2 separate regions of the Homo sapiens genome follow, and region 2 is linked to region 1. The links come from fine-mapping of genetic effects on gene expression. Tissue or cell type: lung. Region 1 holds a variant in brackets; the other region holds the start of a gene. All regions are shown on one strand. Distances are between the middles of the regions. Region 1 overlaps KIF6 (kinesin family member 6). Region 2 holds the start of KCNK17 (potassium two pore domain channel subfamily K member 17).

Region 1 (8,321 bases):
ATGCTGTGGTGGGAGAGGGGAGCAGAGCTGCAGGAAAAACTTCCTTGAGAAAGTAGAGGGGACAGTGTGTGGGGCACAAGTGGAGGAAGGCTTGGATACGCAGGATATCCTTTGAGCTGAGATATCCCTTCCCCTGTAACAAATCCATAGAAACCAACCATCATTCCTCCCCTCAAGAAGCCTACAAGCAAGCAATATCTTTAAGTTACATTCACTAAGCTTTTGTACATATAAGAGATGTGATCATCTAACTCTCTCCAAACAGAAGAGGCGGAAGTCCAGGTCCCTGTCAGAGTGGTGTCCTCCTGCTAACACTGTCCCCAGGCAGTGCAGAGAGCTGGATTGAAGGGCAGGCACTTTTATTAAAATATGTATGGCAAACTACCATTTATAAATGTTTTCATTTTTATTGTTTCATTTGATGCTCTTAACGCTCCTGTAAGGCATGCAGGGCCAAGATTATGATCCCCTGTGGACAGGTGAGGAAAGGAAACTGAGGCACACAGAGGTTGTATCACTTGCCCAAGGTTACACAGCTGATAAATGGCAGAGCCAGCATAACCCAGGTTTTCTGCTCTCTCCCCACTGGGCCACACTGTCTTGAAAAGCTGCAACTACCAAGATATGCCCACTCTGCTGTCAGGAGTTCTCTCGGCCTCAGGAACAGGAACCAGCATTGACGAGGGGAGTGACCGCAGCCTCTACCCACCCTGCAGCTGGGGAGCTTTGCTCTCCAAATAAACAGCAGCCTGGAAGTAATTCATCAAAGCAAACAAAACTTCCACAGCTCAATTTTTATTCCGAAAGGAAGAATATTCATTCTGGCTTTTCAGTGACCACGGGGCCACAAAGGAAGCCAAAGACAGGTTGACACGGGGTCCCTCTGCCACCAGGTCCCAAAGGGCCAGCAGGCGTGACCTCTCAGACATACAGCAGATGGTTCTGGTCCCACCATGTGGCACTTAATATGCAGCCCACTTATCAGGGCACCCAGGCAAACACACAGGCCGGGGCCCAGGCACCTTCTCAGCCAAAGCAAACACCTCCCTCTCCCTGCCTGGGCTCTCGAATCTTAATTTAGCTCACAGCGCTGCCTTGGTTACTTCAGGAGTGCTCATTAAGGGGAATTTGTGACTGTCAGCTCAGGAGCAGGAGCCCAGAGAGGGCAATTTAACATAAGCCTCGCCAGCTCTTAGGCTTCACCAAGGGCCAGGATGAATCTATTTGATTTAGGATTCATGGAACAGCATGGAATGTTTAAATCCCTGCCAGGGGCAGGCGTGGACAGGTATATAACACCCGTAAGGGGCATCAGTCATCCGTGGAGTCAACTCTGCTGTTTCCAACTGCCAAGGACAGTTTTTATGTCTGAGGAAATGAGGTTAACCCCTTTCTAGAGGGCCTTTTTGTTTTTAATCTTGCTTAATCCCTGAGTTTGGAAGTATTCCCATCTGGAAAGGAACCATGGTGCGACCCCCATAACCACAAGTCTGTCTTCTCCAAGAGGTGTTAGGAAGAGGTCCTGCCTCTCCCAGCCCTCCAGCCCCACTCAGAGAAACCCTCCAGCTCTCTTCTGTGTTCAGAAACCCTCCCAGGGAAAGAGAAAGAGCCCCGAGCTGGGAGGGAAAAGGCGGAAATTCCAAGGCCATCTCTGCTCTGCGTGACACTGGGCAGGTCACCTCCCCAAGCCTCCCTCTCACTGTCTGTCATGTACAGATTCCACCCTTGCCCAGGCTCTGATCCTTTCCCAGATAATCTCCATTAAAGTCCCTTATCAACTCCCAAGCACCAAGGAATTATTAACAGGGAAGTGGCCTCTGTGGTGAGAGCTGGCCCAACACCATGAGGTGTGATTTTGCTTTTTCTTAATGGTACATCTGTAGTGTGCCCTCCTTTCTGGGAGCCCACGGTAATCAAAACCCCAATACAGACAGAGCTTCATCACTTAACTGGGGCCCATAAAGTGAATGAGTTTGAAATGGTGCCTTTTGTGTTGAGGTCTGTGCATGTAAGGAGCTATGTCTTGGGGCAGAGCGTGCTCTCCCCCCTATTCTGTAGCATTTCTTCCCAGGCCCCACCCCACCCACCCCCTGTCATTACTGCATGCAAGTGTGTGAGGGGCTCAGAGACCATCCTGGGTGGGAGATGGCTCAGACTCCATGCTCCCTACCACCGGCAGCGTTCACAATCCTGGCCCAGGCTGCATTTCAACAGTGCAGCAGAAACATCAGAGCCCAGATCTCATCAGCAGCCACGTGCCCACGGGCCCCCAGCTCTTGCCCTGCCAGTCCTTGTACTAGAGAGACAAAAGCAGTGAGTTTCAGCCATGGCCATGCCTCAGAATCACCTGGACCCACCCCAGTGATCCTGACTGAATGGTTCTGGGCTGTGGTCTGGGCACCAGGATGTCTAGAGATTCTCCAGAGATTTCCGTTGTGTAGCAGAGCTGGGAACCACAAGTCCAGAGTGACAGGAACACATGACCATCATAGGCTCGGTGTACTTGTCTTCTTACTTCCCGTTCTAGAATTCAATTCAGACAGATCAGAATGTCTTAAAAATAAGGACCATATTTGTTTAATTAAACAGCAAGGCCTGCCAGAGGTCTTGCACACAGAATTAGAACTGAAAGACCAAGGGCTCACAGCCGTGAATTATTTCCAATCTCTTCCTCCGCACTAGCTGGCCATTCAATGTATCACCAAGAATTACCCTTTCTTCCACAGCAATATCAAGCCAACCAAGCTAACACTCGTCACCCAGTACCAGGTTCCTGTGGCCGAACCTGGAGGGCTGCAGCTGCCTGCTCACCTGTTCCCTGAGCAGCCTCACCCCTCAGGCTCTCTGTCCACTGAAATTTTTTTAAACATTGTATTTATTACTTCATCCAAGAATCTCAGAAATTCTCTCTTGCTCTTACTAAATTAGCCAAACTTTAAGCAAAATAACTGCATATCACTCTTACCAGTTCTCACATTTTAATGTGCTAATGAATCGACAGGTTTTGTCAAACTGTAGATTCTGATCCAGTAAGTCCAGGGTGGACCATGTCTTAGACTCTGCCTTTCTTAACAAGCTCCCTGGAAATGCCAGCACTGCTGGTCCATGGACCACATTTTGTGAAGCAAGAAGCCACCTTGCTTTTTCCAGGTATCTCATCTGCTCCAGCAAAGAGAAATGTTAGGCCCAGAGAACTGACATGACTTGCCCAAAGTCACACCGTGGGTTGGGGACTGTCCTGGCTAGAACGCAAGGGCCCTGGTTCTCAATCCAGAGAACCCTCTCCATGCCCAGCCATGGGAGATGACAGGATAGGGGCCACATGGTCAGGAGGAGCCATCCTGGAATATAATTAATATCTGGAGGAAAAAGCAAGGAGAGAATCTGAGGATTAGGTAGGAGCATCAATGAAAACCATGGGGTTGTCCAGGTGTGGTAGCTCACACCTGTAATCCCAGCACTTTGGGAGGCTGAGGTGAAGGATCACTTAAGCTCAGGAATTTGAGACCAGCCTGGACAACATGGTGAAACCCCATCTCTAGTAAAAATACAAAAATTAGCCAGACGTGGTGGTGGGTGCCTGTAATTCCAGATACTTGGGAGGCTGAGGCAGGAGAATCACTTGAACCCCGGAGGCAGAGGTTGCAGTGAGCCGAGATTGTGCCACTGCACTCCAGCCTGGGTAACAGAGCAAGACTCCGTCCAGAAAGAAAAGAAAGAAAAAGAAAGAAGGAAGGAAGGAAGGAAGAGGGGAAGGGAGGGGAGGCTGGAGGGAGGGAGGGAAAGAAAAGAAAGAAAAAGAAAGAAAGAAAGAAAGAAAGAAAGAAAGAAAGAAAGAAAGAAAGAAAGAAAGAAAGAAAGAAGGAAGGAAAGAAAGAAAAGAAAGAGAAAGGAAGGAAGGAAGGAGGAAAGAAAGAAAGAAAGAGAAGAAAGAAGAAAGAAAGGAAAGAAGGAAAGAAAGGAAAGAGAAAGAAAGAAAGAAAGAAAAAGGAAGGAAGGAAAAGAAAGGAAGGAAGGGAGGGAGGGAGGGAAGAAAGGAAGGAAAGAAGGGGAGAGAAAGAGAGAAAGAATGAAAGAGAAGAAAGAGAAAGAAAAAGAAAGAAAGAAGAGAAAGGGAAGAAAGGGAAGAAAGGGAAGGAAGGGAAGGAAGGAC[A/G]GAAGAAAGGAAGGAAGGAAAAGACAAGACTCCAGCCTCGGTGACAGAGCGAGACTCCATCAAAAAAAAGAAAGAAAGAAAAGGAAAGAAAACGGTGGGGTAGGAAAACAGGCGTCAGTCTCAGCCTAGGGAGATGGAGCTTCTGCAAAGGGCAAAGGGGGCCTCTTCCTTCAGAGCTTGGGGTATAAATGCAGCTCCTGGGAGGCAAGACACAGATGCAGTGCCCAAGACCCAGGGGGAGTGGCTGGTGGCCTCCCCTCCCCCCGATTCAATCCTGGGAAAAGTCAGTGTCTGCATGCACAGCCTAACCAAAAGCATCCTGTCTCCCTTTCAGGTTTGGGAAGCAATTGAATTTCCAGGAAATATCCATCCATGAATTATGCCAGCAAGAATGAAGCACAGATGAAGGCAGCGCCCCTCACTTGCTCTGGCTTCAGAAGTGAACTATGGGCTGCTGGGAGCAACTAGTGACTTTGATTCCCATGGAGGGGACTGTGTTTCTTTAAGGATGCTGACCTGGAGGCCACCGAGAGGCTGGGGCTGGGGCTGACCACAACATCCTTCCTGTGGTTGCTGGAGCTGCTGGCAGGGCCAGGCAAGGCCAGAGTGCTAGGGGCAGGGTGAAGGCTTCAGCTCACTGTTGTAGTGACGTTTTGTGTAGATCTTTATAAGCTTTTGAGAATGTGAAATAGCACCATCAAAATATAATGTCAGAGGATGCTCACACCAGTGGAATGTGGGGGGAATATTTTTATTTTTAACGATTTGCCAGCTCTCTCCCTTGGCCCGTGCTCTGGTTTGGAAGCCCAGAAATGGCCATGACAGGTCCAGGCAGGATGTCCCAGCCACAGGCAAGGCAGTGGAATGCAGGGCATCCTGAAGGCCAATCCTGATCTCCCAGACCACATCTTTCACCATCAGCCTCTTGGCCAGGATGACCTGGAGGCAGTGCCTGAACAGCTGTGTCTCCAGGGAGCCATCTGCCCTGCAGGGTCTAAGGACATCATAGCACCCAGAGAACAGTGGGCAGCTCCCAGGGGCTCTGCTGAGAGCTTGAGAGAGGGCAGTGTGGGTACCTTGGGCCTCACAACCTTCACCCAGCCACTTGGGAGGATTTGGGCTGACACTCCCCACTTCCACAGGGAAAAACATAGCTGCCTGGGGGTCTTGTCTCCATGGGCCCTCTCCATGACAGATCCAAGGGAAGGTGGGCAGCCCTCAAGGAGGTTCTTGAAGAACTGCCCCCTGGGCCAGGGGGTTCCAACCCAGCTGCAGCCAGGGAGGGGCAGCGGAGGGTGAGCAGGAGTGGCACCTGGAAATGAAGCTAACTGGATAAAAGTGCTGGTCCACTGCTCCTGGTGTCTCTGTCCTATAAATACAGGACCTGATGACCCTGGAGGGGAGCAGAGTGGTAATATAGTATAATTGGCTTGATTTTCTTTTTCGTTTTTTAGGACTGGGTAACAGGATCATGCAGGAGAAGATTAAACCATTACATTTCTAAGCTAGGCAGGCCCATCGAGCTCCTCTAATCCACACCCCTATTTTATATAATTAGAAGGCCAGAGTGAAGGGGAGATTCAGCTTGCTGTTCTATGCCACTGACAAATGTCCCCTCTTCAGGGGGCTTCCCCTGACCACTCCATCTCGAGTCACCCCCTAGTTATCCCCTATCCCATTACCATTTTTTCTGCATCACTATCTGACATGTTATCCTTCCGAACTTGCCTATTTTTGAAATACCTGCAACCCCCCATAATACTAAGAGCTCCAATGCAACAGGGACCTGTTTGTCTTGCTCATTGCTGTGTCCCAAGCACAGAGTCGCTGTTCAGTAAACGGTCCTTCAGTTCATGAGTAGACGAGCCAGAACCCAGATGTGTTTCTCAGGCTGGTGTCACTCTGACTTCCCCCAGGCTCTGACTGAATCCCATCGGGACAGGGGCCAGCATCTCTGGTCCACTCCTGGCCCTCACAGTTCAATGGAACATAGTAAGCCCTCTGTAAAGTCTGTAGAACCAGAGGAAGACCAAATTCTGATTCTAGAAGCCTCCCCAAGAGTCCATGGAACACACATGTAACTGCACACACACACACACATACACACACACACTCTCAAGAGCCCTGAAGATGGCATGGCATTTGCCCCAGTCCCCTATGTAGCAGCAGCAGTATTCTTGGCATGCCTTAGTGCCCTCAGCCCTCTAGAGCTGGGTAGAGTCTACTAACTTTTATTTTCTTTTATTTTTACTTTCTTTTATTTATTTTTTGAGATGGGGGGGGTCTCTGTCAGCCAGGCTGGGGTGCAGTGGTGCGACCATACCTCACTAGTCAGCCTCCAACTCCTGGGCTCAAGCCATACTCAGCCTCCAACTCCTGGGCTCAAGCGATCCTCTCACCTCAGCCTCCAAAGTAGCTGGAACTACAGGCATGCACCACCACACCTAGCTCGTTTTAAATTTTTTGTAGAGACAGGGTCTCACTGTGTGGCTCAGGATGGTCTCAAATTCCTGGCCTTAAGCGATGCTCCCGCCTTGGCCTCCCAAAGTGCTGGGATTGCAGGCATGAGCCACATACCCTGCCAGAGTCTTTCAACATTAGATCTCCCACTGAGACATCATCTCCTGGATCCAAAGGCCTTACTGACAGAGATGTGTGGCATGGCCCCATGCGGGGTGTGAACCAGCCTCCTGGGGCAATCACTAAGACAGGAAAGGAAATGAAGACAGAAAAACACACAACATGGGATCTGGGGCCACTGGTGTCCAGAGCATATGCAAAGTGTGTGCAGCAACTGGCCAAGGGGCCTTTTGCTCCGAACATCCCCTAATGGAAGCCCAGCCTTTGATATGGACACATGCTTGACAGCAGTGCACCTTCCCAGAGTTCACTGGCCTCTGCAAATGGGAGAAATTGATGCAATGTTTTGAAAAGACTTTCCAGCAATCCACCTGGGATCAGTGGAGCCACGGATGACAAGAAGTATCTGAGTTCACTCTAGGCCAAAATGTGGGATTTTCAAAAACATTTTCTGGAAAGCAGCCTAGCCAGTGACTCCAGCCCAGTCCCTGCTAGAATTCAACTGGCTCTACCAATCCCTTGACAAGAAGTAGGGTGGACGGAGGTTGGAGGAGGGAAGTTAAAATGTAGCTTGCCCAGATCTTGCTAAAAAGGAGTTTTAGAAAGCAGATAGAGAAATTGTGGTATACTGAATACATCATTTTAATTCTTCACCACCAGTATAGAATTACACATCCAAAGCTTTGTCATGGCCCACTTTGACTAATGTGGTGTTGGCAAACCTGATCCAGGCAGAGGCTTGAATTGTGCTCTCATGGTTGAGCTTGCCTCTTGCTCCAGTGATCTCTCTTGGGATGAACATGCCATGGGTAGCTGCTGCCCCTTCAGCCTGGAACATCCAGAGAGCAGACCTGAGCCCAGTCTACAGCCTGGAGCAGAGCCTCCCAGGCAAGCCCAGCCCAGATCAGCTGAACTATGGCTCACCCAAAGACCTATTGGCATGAGAATATATGCTGCTTGTCATAAACCACTGAGGTTTAGAGTGGTTTGTTATATAGCATTAATTGTAGCAATAGCAGACTGGCACAGAAATTGGAACCCAGAGACAGTATATGACTGGATCTAGGATTTCTCAGTGCAGAGTTCATTGTCTCTCCATGCAGCCTGTGGAAAGGCACTGAGAGCATCCTGTATATGGAAAAGCAGGACCACCACCTACAGCCATGATGAAGCAACAAGGACCTGATTTACCCTCCTGCTTTAAATGACTAAAAATGAGACAAAATCCTCTATACAAACCAATGGTTTTCAGCCATTGGATAACAAGCAATATAGGGTATGATTGATCCGCAAGAGAAGGGAAACAAGTGAGGGGAGCCCTATGATTGCTCCAACTTACTGCCTGCAGTGAGTTTTCAGGCTGCAGCCCAGGAAGGGGGAACCAGGTAGAGCCCAGTGGTTTCCCTGAGTTGAGGAAATGGAGCTGGGAATCCAGGGAGGACAAAGTGGCTTAAATTTGCAAGGCAGAGTCCCAGGGATGAGAGAGAGAGAAGGAGAGAGAGAGGAGAAAAAAGAGAGAGAAAGAGAGAGAGCATGCTCTGGAGATCTTCAGAGGGTTACCCTTGAGTCTTCAGCTAACTACCGATCA
Region 2 (8,321 bases), 22 kb after region 1:
TGCCATGCCACCCCCTACAGGTCATCATGGAAGCCTGGGTGAAAGGTGTGAACCCCAAAGGCAACTCTACCAACCCCAGCAACTGGGACTTTGGCAGCAGTTTCTTCTTTGCAGGCACAGTCGTCACTACCATAGGTAAAGGGCTGGGGTAGAGAAGAGCTTCCCCAAGGCCCCTGTCTTAGTTTGGGCTCCCCAAAAGCAGATGCTGAGACAAGGATGTGGTTTGTCTAGGAGATTATTCAGGAAGCCCAGGGAGGGAGTGGGTAAGTGAAACAGTAGGGAGAAGGTGGCAATGAAATTTGCATTAATTAGCAGATTACTGGCTTGGGTGACTGAGCTCACTTCTCCTTGGGACCCTCTGAGAGGCTAGATAGAGCCCTTCCTCAGAACGGTCCAGCGAGGGACAAGAATGAGGGGCCATTTAGCTACCAACTCCTGCCCTCAAAGGTTGAGAGCTGGTCCCGAGTATATTAGTTCCCCAGCATTTTGAAACTTCCCATAGACCAAGCATACTCCTTTGGCCAGAAGAATCTCTCAGGTAGAGAGAGATGTGCAGAAACTGGGAGCGGGGGTTGATTTGTATACAGGAACTGTCCACCAAAGCTTCAGGTGGTATCTCATGTGTTCTGAGGGAACAGGGCACTGACAGCAGCTGCTACACCCCCTCGGCCAGAAAACTCACTCCATCCCACCCCAAGGAAACCATCAGATCCAGGTCTACCCCATCCATTCAGTTAAGTCCAATTCCACATACTTTCCTTGAACTCAGGTGACATTCCAGGCAGAGTGATGGAGTTGGGGGTGAGAGATACAAACTTGGATCAGACCCAGGCTCAGCCTGCAAGGAACTTCCAGTCCAACAAAGAGGAACATGATAAATACACAAAAAAAAGTAATAGAAAACAAAGTCGATAATTACATAGCAATGACATAAAACACTATGGGGAACCACACCCAGAAGGGAGAAGGAAATCGGCAGTCAGGAGGGCTTCATGGAGGCAGAGTCATTTGAGATGGGCCTTCAAAGATGAGCAGGAGTCCTATAAATAAAAATCATTCCAGCAGAGTTCATGGGAACAGGGGAGCTTCCCCTTCTCACCCCCAGAGGTGGTGACAGACAAACCTCAGCTAGAGTCTGGGGAAGAGGAGCAGAGGGCGTTCTAGAGTCTCCATATTTGCACACGCCCCCCTTCCCTTGCAGGATATGGGAACCTGGCACCCAGCACAGAGGCAGGTCAGGTCTTCTGTGTCTTCTATGCCCTGTTGGGCATCCCGCTTAACGTGATCTTCCTCAACCACCTGGGCACAGGGCTGCGTGCCCATCTGGCCGCCATTGAAAGATGGGAGGACCGTCCCAGGCGCTCCCAGGTATGCCCCCTAACTCCCTTACAGGCCTGCTGTGACAGATCTGTTGCAAGTGGAGTTCCCCAGAAGCCGATGCTGAGATGGAGTTTGGCATGCATGGTGTTAGGGGTAGATGCCTGTGAAAGAGGAAGGGTGAAGGCAGGGTTGGGCAGAGTGGGGAGTTGGATCTCTATGCATGCTCTACAAAGGCTTGGCCCCAAGGAGCTCTACAGCATGTGAGAGCTGTCAGAGTTGTCCCACAGTGGGCGGAACCAGCCAGGTTTTCATACCTGCCTCAATCAGGCACTGGGTGTGGCCTTCCCAGGAAGGGTATGCCCCTAGGCCAGGAGGTTCTCTGCAGCTGAACACCCTGAAGGAGCTGGCAGCTGGCCCACCGTCCTCCTTTAAGTGAGGGATCTCTGTAGCACATCTTCAAGGTCATCACAGAACTCCAACATCCTTTTGTGCAGTAGCAAACAAGCTCTGCAGGCTGCCCAGCATGCCCTCAGTGCCCACCCTTGGCCAGCCACTTGCAAGGCCAGAAATACGCAGACAGTTCAATGATACTTTTCTGTTCCAGATCTGAGTCCCCAGGGAGCCTGTTCAAGTGTGATCCCCAAGTCCAAAGGGGTCTCCAAATCGCTTCTTGACCCACTAACGCAATCCCTCTGCCGAAATCTTTCCCTGGGTGGGACAAGGTCATGCACACATAGATACAACCTCCACCTCGAGGGTCTGCAGTGCAGGAAAGGGTCCTAGCTATGGCCCAGTCCCATTCCCATGTTTACCCCAGACTCCCCCCAACCTCATACAATCCTGGAGACTTTCAAGTGGACTCAGAGGCCAACTCCCTCCCTCCTAGGTACTGCAAGTCCTGGGCCTGGCTCTGTTCCTGACCCTGGGGACGCTGGTCATTCTCATCTTCCCACCCATGGTCTTCAGCCATGTGGAGGGCTGGAGCTTCAGCGAGGGCTTCTACTTTGCTTTCATCACTCTCAGCACCATTGGCTTTGGGGACTATGTTGTTGGTGAGAACAAAACAGTCACATTATCTCAGGGTGGGGGTGCCCACTGGGATTTGGGGGATGGAGAGATGTCAGCTGAGGACAACTATTGAGGATAAGATAGCCCTTGGTCATTCAAGGGAGCCAAACCAATGATTTCTGGGACTACTGTGGATTCTAAGCAACATTCTCAGAAGTTTCTGGTCTAGGACCCATCACCACCCTGCAGAGACCTACCTCAACTGCTGTTCCTTGTTATGAGGAAGAGGGAGAGAGCATCCTGGCTGGTGAGGGTCCCTATGGAAACTGGAGGTGGCTATGCCCTGAGACCCCTGGCATTGATGCCATTCCCTTCCCTGGCAGGCACAGACCCCAGCAAGCATTATATCTCAGTGTATCGGAGCCTGGCAGCCATCTGGATCCTCCTGGGCCTGGCGTGGCTGGCGCTGATCCTCCCACTGGGCCCCCTGCTTCTGCACAGATGCTGCCAGCTCTGGCTGCTCAGTAGGGGCCTCGGCGTCAAGGATGGGGCAGCCTCTGACCCCAGTGGGCTCCCCAGGCCTCAGAAGATCCCCATCTCTGCATGAGGCCCCCGGGGGGGGCCCAGAAACCCCTTTCATCCTCCCCAGTCCCACCCTATCTGCTCTCTGGATTTCCAGCCCTGCTTTCTCCTCTCCCAACCCCCTCACTTCTCAGCCAGGGCTGGTCTCAGGAGCTCTCCCAAGAGAGAAAGGAGACAGGTATATCCAAGAAAGTAACAGAGAGGAGACGTGAGATAGGATTAAAGACATGTGTGGATGGGGAGGTGTACCCTTGTCCCAGAGCCCCTGCCACAGCCTTCCACCCAAAGGTAGTGGCCAGATCTCCACTGCCCTCCCCATGCCCCCTTCCAGGAGACCTTACACAAACAAAGGATGACTTTACTTTTGCCTCATTTGATATGTGCACAGTGCATTTGCCAAGCCCCTACTATGTGCCAGGTGCTGTGCCAGGGTCTGTGCCAGGGTCTGGGGATACAGCAGTGGAAGTGCCTGCCCTTGATGTGCCTTTAGTTGCTAGGCAAGCAAAGAGGCAGCCCCAACACAGTGCCCAAAATGCTATGATGGGAATAGCCCCAGGGTTGATGAGAGCCCATGGGAATGGCTGGCAGGGAGCATCAAAGAGAGGGGAGACCTGGGCAGAGACTTTGGAACAATCTTAGTGAAAAGAGGATCTCTGCCCTCAGGAAGCTCTCAGCCGAGGGGCAGGCGAGCTGCCTCTCAAAGCTCGCCAGCTCCCCTTGCCTAGAAGTCCAGGGCTGTCTGTGAACAAAGCTTAGGACCTCTTGGGTGTCCTACCCACTTTCCTGAACATGGCCTCCCCTGACCCTCACAGGCCACCCCCTTAACTTCATCACTCCCTCTGGGCTCCTGCCTTCTCAAGAGCCTTTCCAAACACCCCATGGGAAGCCAGAGAGCCAGCAGATCCCAGGATCCTTCCAGAAAGTGAGCTCCATGAACGTCTGGCCTCTCTCAGGAATGCATTCTCCAGGTCTGGCCTTTCCCCTGCCAGACTGCAACATCCCTGACCAGGAGAGATTTAGACCACTCCATCCCGGGGCCTGGAAATTTTGGCCTTTGCCTCTCCCATCATCCAACAGCAAGTGGGCTCCTATGTGGCTGGGTTCCTCTGCACAGGTCTGAGGCAAGGCTGTGGAGCCAAGGCGGCTCCAGGCAGGAGACCCAGGAGAGGCTCTACAGCAGCAAGAGGAGTCCAAGTCACACCCCAGGACTTCCCCATATCCAAGAAAGGACTGGGAAGCTGAGGACCCACGGACTCTTCACACAGCCTAGACGCTTCCTCCACTCCAGGTAGAGGGATTTCGGGGGCCTTCTCAGAAGCAAGGAGTGGACAAGCCTCTTGGTTAAGGCTCCTCTTACCTCCCAAGCTCATGGACAAGTGGCAATCAGCTGGGGTCCCTCTTTTGGGGTACAAAGGAAAGGACAGAGGTGTGGGAGACCCAAGGTGGTCTTGAGATTGACAGACAGCAAGTCCTTGGAGATAGCCCCCGAGTCCAAGAACTTAGGCAGGGGCCCCAAGACAATAAAGTTGGTCTCTACTATCTCCTACCTCTGAGTGCGGTTTCCAGAAGTCCCTCCCATTGTTCATTTCAGGAAATGTGAGGGGGCTCTGGGCCCCTTCCCTCAGCGCCTGCGGTCACCCAGCAGCTTCCTCCTTCTCCCTGGCCTAGGCCTAGCAGGTGGGCACCCCGCACACATTTGAGGCGGGGCCAGATGCCCACAGTTCAGAGCCTCTTTTTGTCCCGGGGATTGGATCCCAGGGCTGGGTGGGGCCAGGCTGTCCCATTCCCCAACACTCCTCCTCCCCGGCGAAACCGGGCACCAGCAGGCGTTTGCGAGAGGAGATACGAGCTGGACGCCTGGCCCTTCCCTCCCACCGGGTCCTAGTCCACCGCTCCCGGCGCCGGCTCCCCGCCTCTCCCGCTATGTACCGACCGCGAGCCCGGGCGGCTCCCGAGGGCAGGGTCCGGGGCTGCGCGGTGCCCAGCACCGTGCTCCTGCTGCTCGCCTACCTGGCTTACCTGGCGCTGGGCACCGGCGTGTTCTGGACGCTGGAGGGCCGCGCGGCGCAGGACTCCAGCCGCAGCTTCCAGCGCGACAAGTGGGAGCTGTTGCAGAACTTCACGTGTCTGGACCGCCCGGCGCTGGACTCGCTGATCCGGGTCAGGGGCGAGCGGCGTCGGCCTGGGCGCGGCGGGATGGGGTAGCGGGCCGCGGGGTGTACGGGCCGAGGGCGAGGGGGCCTATTCAGGCCCTGGTCAGGTGTTTCCTGTTCAGGGAAACGTCGGGAACGCAGACGCGGGCACAACGGGGGTGGGCGTTCCTGCGCGGGGACCAGAGGGTTGGGGGACCTCGGAGGAAAAGACCCTCGCCCTAGCGAGAGGACTGCGAGAAGCCGGGCTGAGTCCTACTTGGGGGCGAGAGGGCATGCTGGCCCGGTGAGGAGGCAGATGCCTGGGGACACATCCAAATTTGGGGGCGAGGACGACTACGGCAGGGGGCGCGCGCGTAACCGGCCCCGCCCGGCCTGACCCGGGAAAGGGCGCGTTTGAGCCTGCTTGGGGGTTGGTCGCACCCGCACCCGTGGCAAAGAGCTAAACGCCACACCTGGCCGCTTCCAGAGGGGGAACCCGGGCGCACGTTTGCGAACTGGGAGCTGGGACGGCAGGGGCGCCGGGTCTAAGGATGCGCAGGAGCGAGGGCGCGGCCGTAGGAGCCTGGGGGAAGGCGCGTTTGTCCCGGAGGGTGGGTGGATTGGGCCCGAGGCGTGCTGGTCGGGGCCACCCTCAACGCAGAGAGGGGGCTCGACGTGCGCAGACCCGGGTTCGAGAGGAGGGCGGACGCAGGGCCGCTCTCTGGCTGAACCCGCTTTACTCCGAGTCTTCGGACACAAGGACTGGGCGCGCCGCCGCCGCGCGGCTGCCCAGAAAGGCTGAAGGCAGGGTTCAGGGGAGGACTCAGAGGTAAATCTGAGCAGAGGCTCCTCAAGGGTGGGGCCTAGCAGGGCGGAGGAGGCCGGGGAGGGTTCTAGGGGTGGCGCATCTTAGGACTGAAGCGACGCCAGACTGGCAGCTGCTCGATTTGGCGGAGGCATTGATGTCCTGGGTCCTGGCTTGGTTCCCCACCCCTTCGTCCAAGAGCCCAGAGTCCAGACAGCTGCGCGCCAGCCCAGAATCCCCGTCTTGCAGTCCTGGTGGCTTATCCGTCCAGAGTCTCCAGTCCAAAGCCAATCCCCGGAAGGTGGCAGGGAACCGTGCCAGGGTGGGAAGGGACCCAGCGCGGAGCGGAAGTGGTGTTCTGAACCCTCGGACTAGGCCGATTCGGTGAGGTCAGGAGGTAGCCAGGGCCAGGCCTATCTCTACTAAGGACCTAAAGTGATTCCTCCAGCTCCCCACCTGCGGACTTCTGCAAATACAGCCCGACTGCTGGGTCCTGGTGCTGAGGCTGCCTGCCATTACCCTTGCAAAGGTGGTGAACTTCGACTACAAGCAGCCTGGGCCCAGGGAGATGGCTATGATGGTGATTATAATAACAGTAAATGCCTCTGTGCAGCACTTATCGTGTGCCAAGCACTGTTGCTGGTACTTTACCCGTATTCATTTGTCTCACCTCCCTCACAGGTGGGTACTGTTTTTATCATCCTGTTTCACCCTCACAGGTGGGTACTGTTTTTATCATCCTGTTTCAGAGGTGAAGAAACAGGCTCAGAGAGGTTACATACGAATGCATGGCTACATAGCCAGGAGCTGGAGCTGTTAACCAGCATAAATACTGCCTCAGTGTGGACCTGTGGATGTGGGTGCTTCCCAAGATTCCCAGCCAGGCTGTCATCTCTTTGGGCTTTCCCTTCAACTCCCTCCACCCCCACCTCACCCCCTTCCTCAACACTCCTGTGGCTTCAGCCAACTCCAGGAATAAGGATGTGGTATCCAGCCCAGATCTTTCTGAGCACCAGATGTGGACATGCAACTTCTGAAATTCCTCAAGGCCAAGAGCAAGTGGTCCTCCTCCTCCCAGCCCTGCTTCTCCACCTGTCCTAAATCTCGATTGTCTGCCCCATGTCCACACACCCTCACAATCCTCTGCAACATCTCCTTTACTGCCCATACTAAATAGGGCCAGAGGCCTGGGCTTCTGAATATCTCCTCTCTGTTCCTCCTGGACCACCTGTGCCAGGAGACAGGCCAGGGCCCGTCTATCACTCACTTCTGCAGGAGTCTCTCCCCTCTGGTCAACCCTTTCTATACTGCCAGCTGCCACAGAGCACACAAACCTGATCCTACTTCCCCTTTGCTCAGTGACCTTGGCTGATACCTGCGACTTCATCCCTGGCATGGCAAAGCCAAGCACAGCTTGGCCTCAATCACTTCTTACCAGTCTCCCTAATCTAGGTCCCAGGCAGTCTCACCTCCCACCTTCTGCACTGCTGTCCCATCTACCTAAACATCCTTCCACCAGAAGCAATCCTACCTGACCCTCAAAGGCCCAGCTAAAACATCCCATTCTCCATGAGGCCTCTGCTCCTACCCAAATGAGAATGAACATCCTTCTTCCCCAGAGTCCTACAACATTATATGCCTATATAATGCATATAGGCAATATAGCAACTGCTAACACCATGTGCCAGGTACTAAGTCTACACATAATACCTTATTTAACACAACAACTCTATGAAGTAGGTACTATTTGTATTACCATTATACAGGTAAGGAAACTGAGGCACAGAGAGAAGTTGAGCACCTTGCCCAGGATTGTGTAGCTGCACTTCCTCCTTAATGCCCAAAGTGACATTGACTGCATCATATTAGAGTTAATTAGGTTTATCTATGTACCACTGAGGGCTGGGGTCATGTCTCTTGTGGTCACGTCCCCTAAAAGCACCACACATCACGCCTGGCCTAGTGTTTGTTGCAGGAATGGGAGTGAGCAGGGGAGAAAATGAGTCGCTGGTTTACTAGGACTCCAACCTGACCTAGCCACTGGGTAAAGGGTGGGGAAGGAGCTGTCCCCATGGTAGCTGTCAGTAGCTGTACCTGGTGAGCCCTTGGTGAGAGGGGTAGAGCCTCCTTGCCCTGGTGGGCTGGGATCGAAGAGTAATTGTGAGGGCTGTGTGTGTAGGTTTGTTTGTGTGTGTGTGTGTGTGTGTGTGTGTGTGTGTGTGTGTGTGTGTGTGCATCTTGGGGTACAGGAAATCCATCACCCCACAGAGCCTGGTGGTCATTGCAGCCTCTTCCCCAGGATGTCGTCCAAGCATACAAAAACGGAGCCAGCCTCCTCAGCAACACCACCAGCATGGGGCGCTGGGAGCTCGTGGGCTCCTTCTTCTTTTCTGTGTCCACCATCACCACCATTGGTAAGGGCCAGATGGGGCCAGGGGGATGGGGGTGGGGGAAGGAGGCAGCTCCCTGAGAGG

The links. PIP is the estimated chance that this variant, and not a neighbour inherited with it, causes the effect.
Region 2: KCNK17 starts here. The variant in region 1 is fine-mapped to the expression of KCNK17 in lung (TOPMed, PIP 0.98).

Annotation. Positions count from the first base shown.
Region 1 is chr6:39,332,715-39,341,035 of GRCh38, reverse strand. It overlaps KIF6 (kinesin family member 6), which reads left to right. Exons shown (of 23, transcript NM_145027.6): 23 at 4,488-8,321. The coding sequence ends at 4,504. LOC105375047 (a long non-coding RNA gene) reads right to left here. Exons shown (of 3, transcript XR_926774.3): 2 at 2,358-2,523. Among named protein-coding and RNA genes, the nearest start is that of KCNK16, 14 kb to the right of the region's middle. RefSeq lists enhancers at 1,016-1,517, 4,794-4,873. The variant A/G (reference allele first, on the strand shown) is at 4,154.
Region 2 is chr6:39,310,833-39,319,153 of GRCh38, reverse strand. KCNK17 (potassium two pore domain channel subfamily K member 17) reads left to right here and starts at 4,735. Exons shown (of 5, transcript NM_031460.4): 1 at 4,735-5,070; 2 at 8,147-8,261. The coding sequence starts at 4,834. KCNK16 (potassium two pore domain channel subfamily K member 16) reads left to right here. Exons shown (of 5, transcript NM_001135106.2): 2 at 21-135; 3 at 1,202-1,368; 4 at 2,207-2,372; 5 at 2,712-2,983. The coding sequence ends at 2,935. It overlaps LOC105375047 (a long non-coding RNA gene), which reads right to left and starts at 5,198. Exons shown (of 3, transcript XR_926774.3): 1 at 4,930-5,198.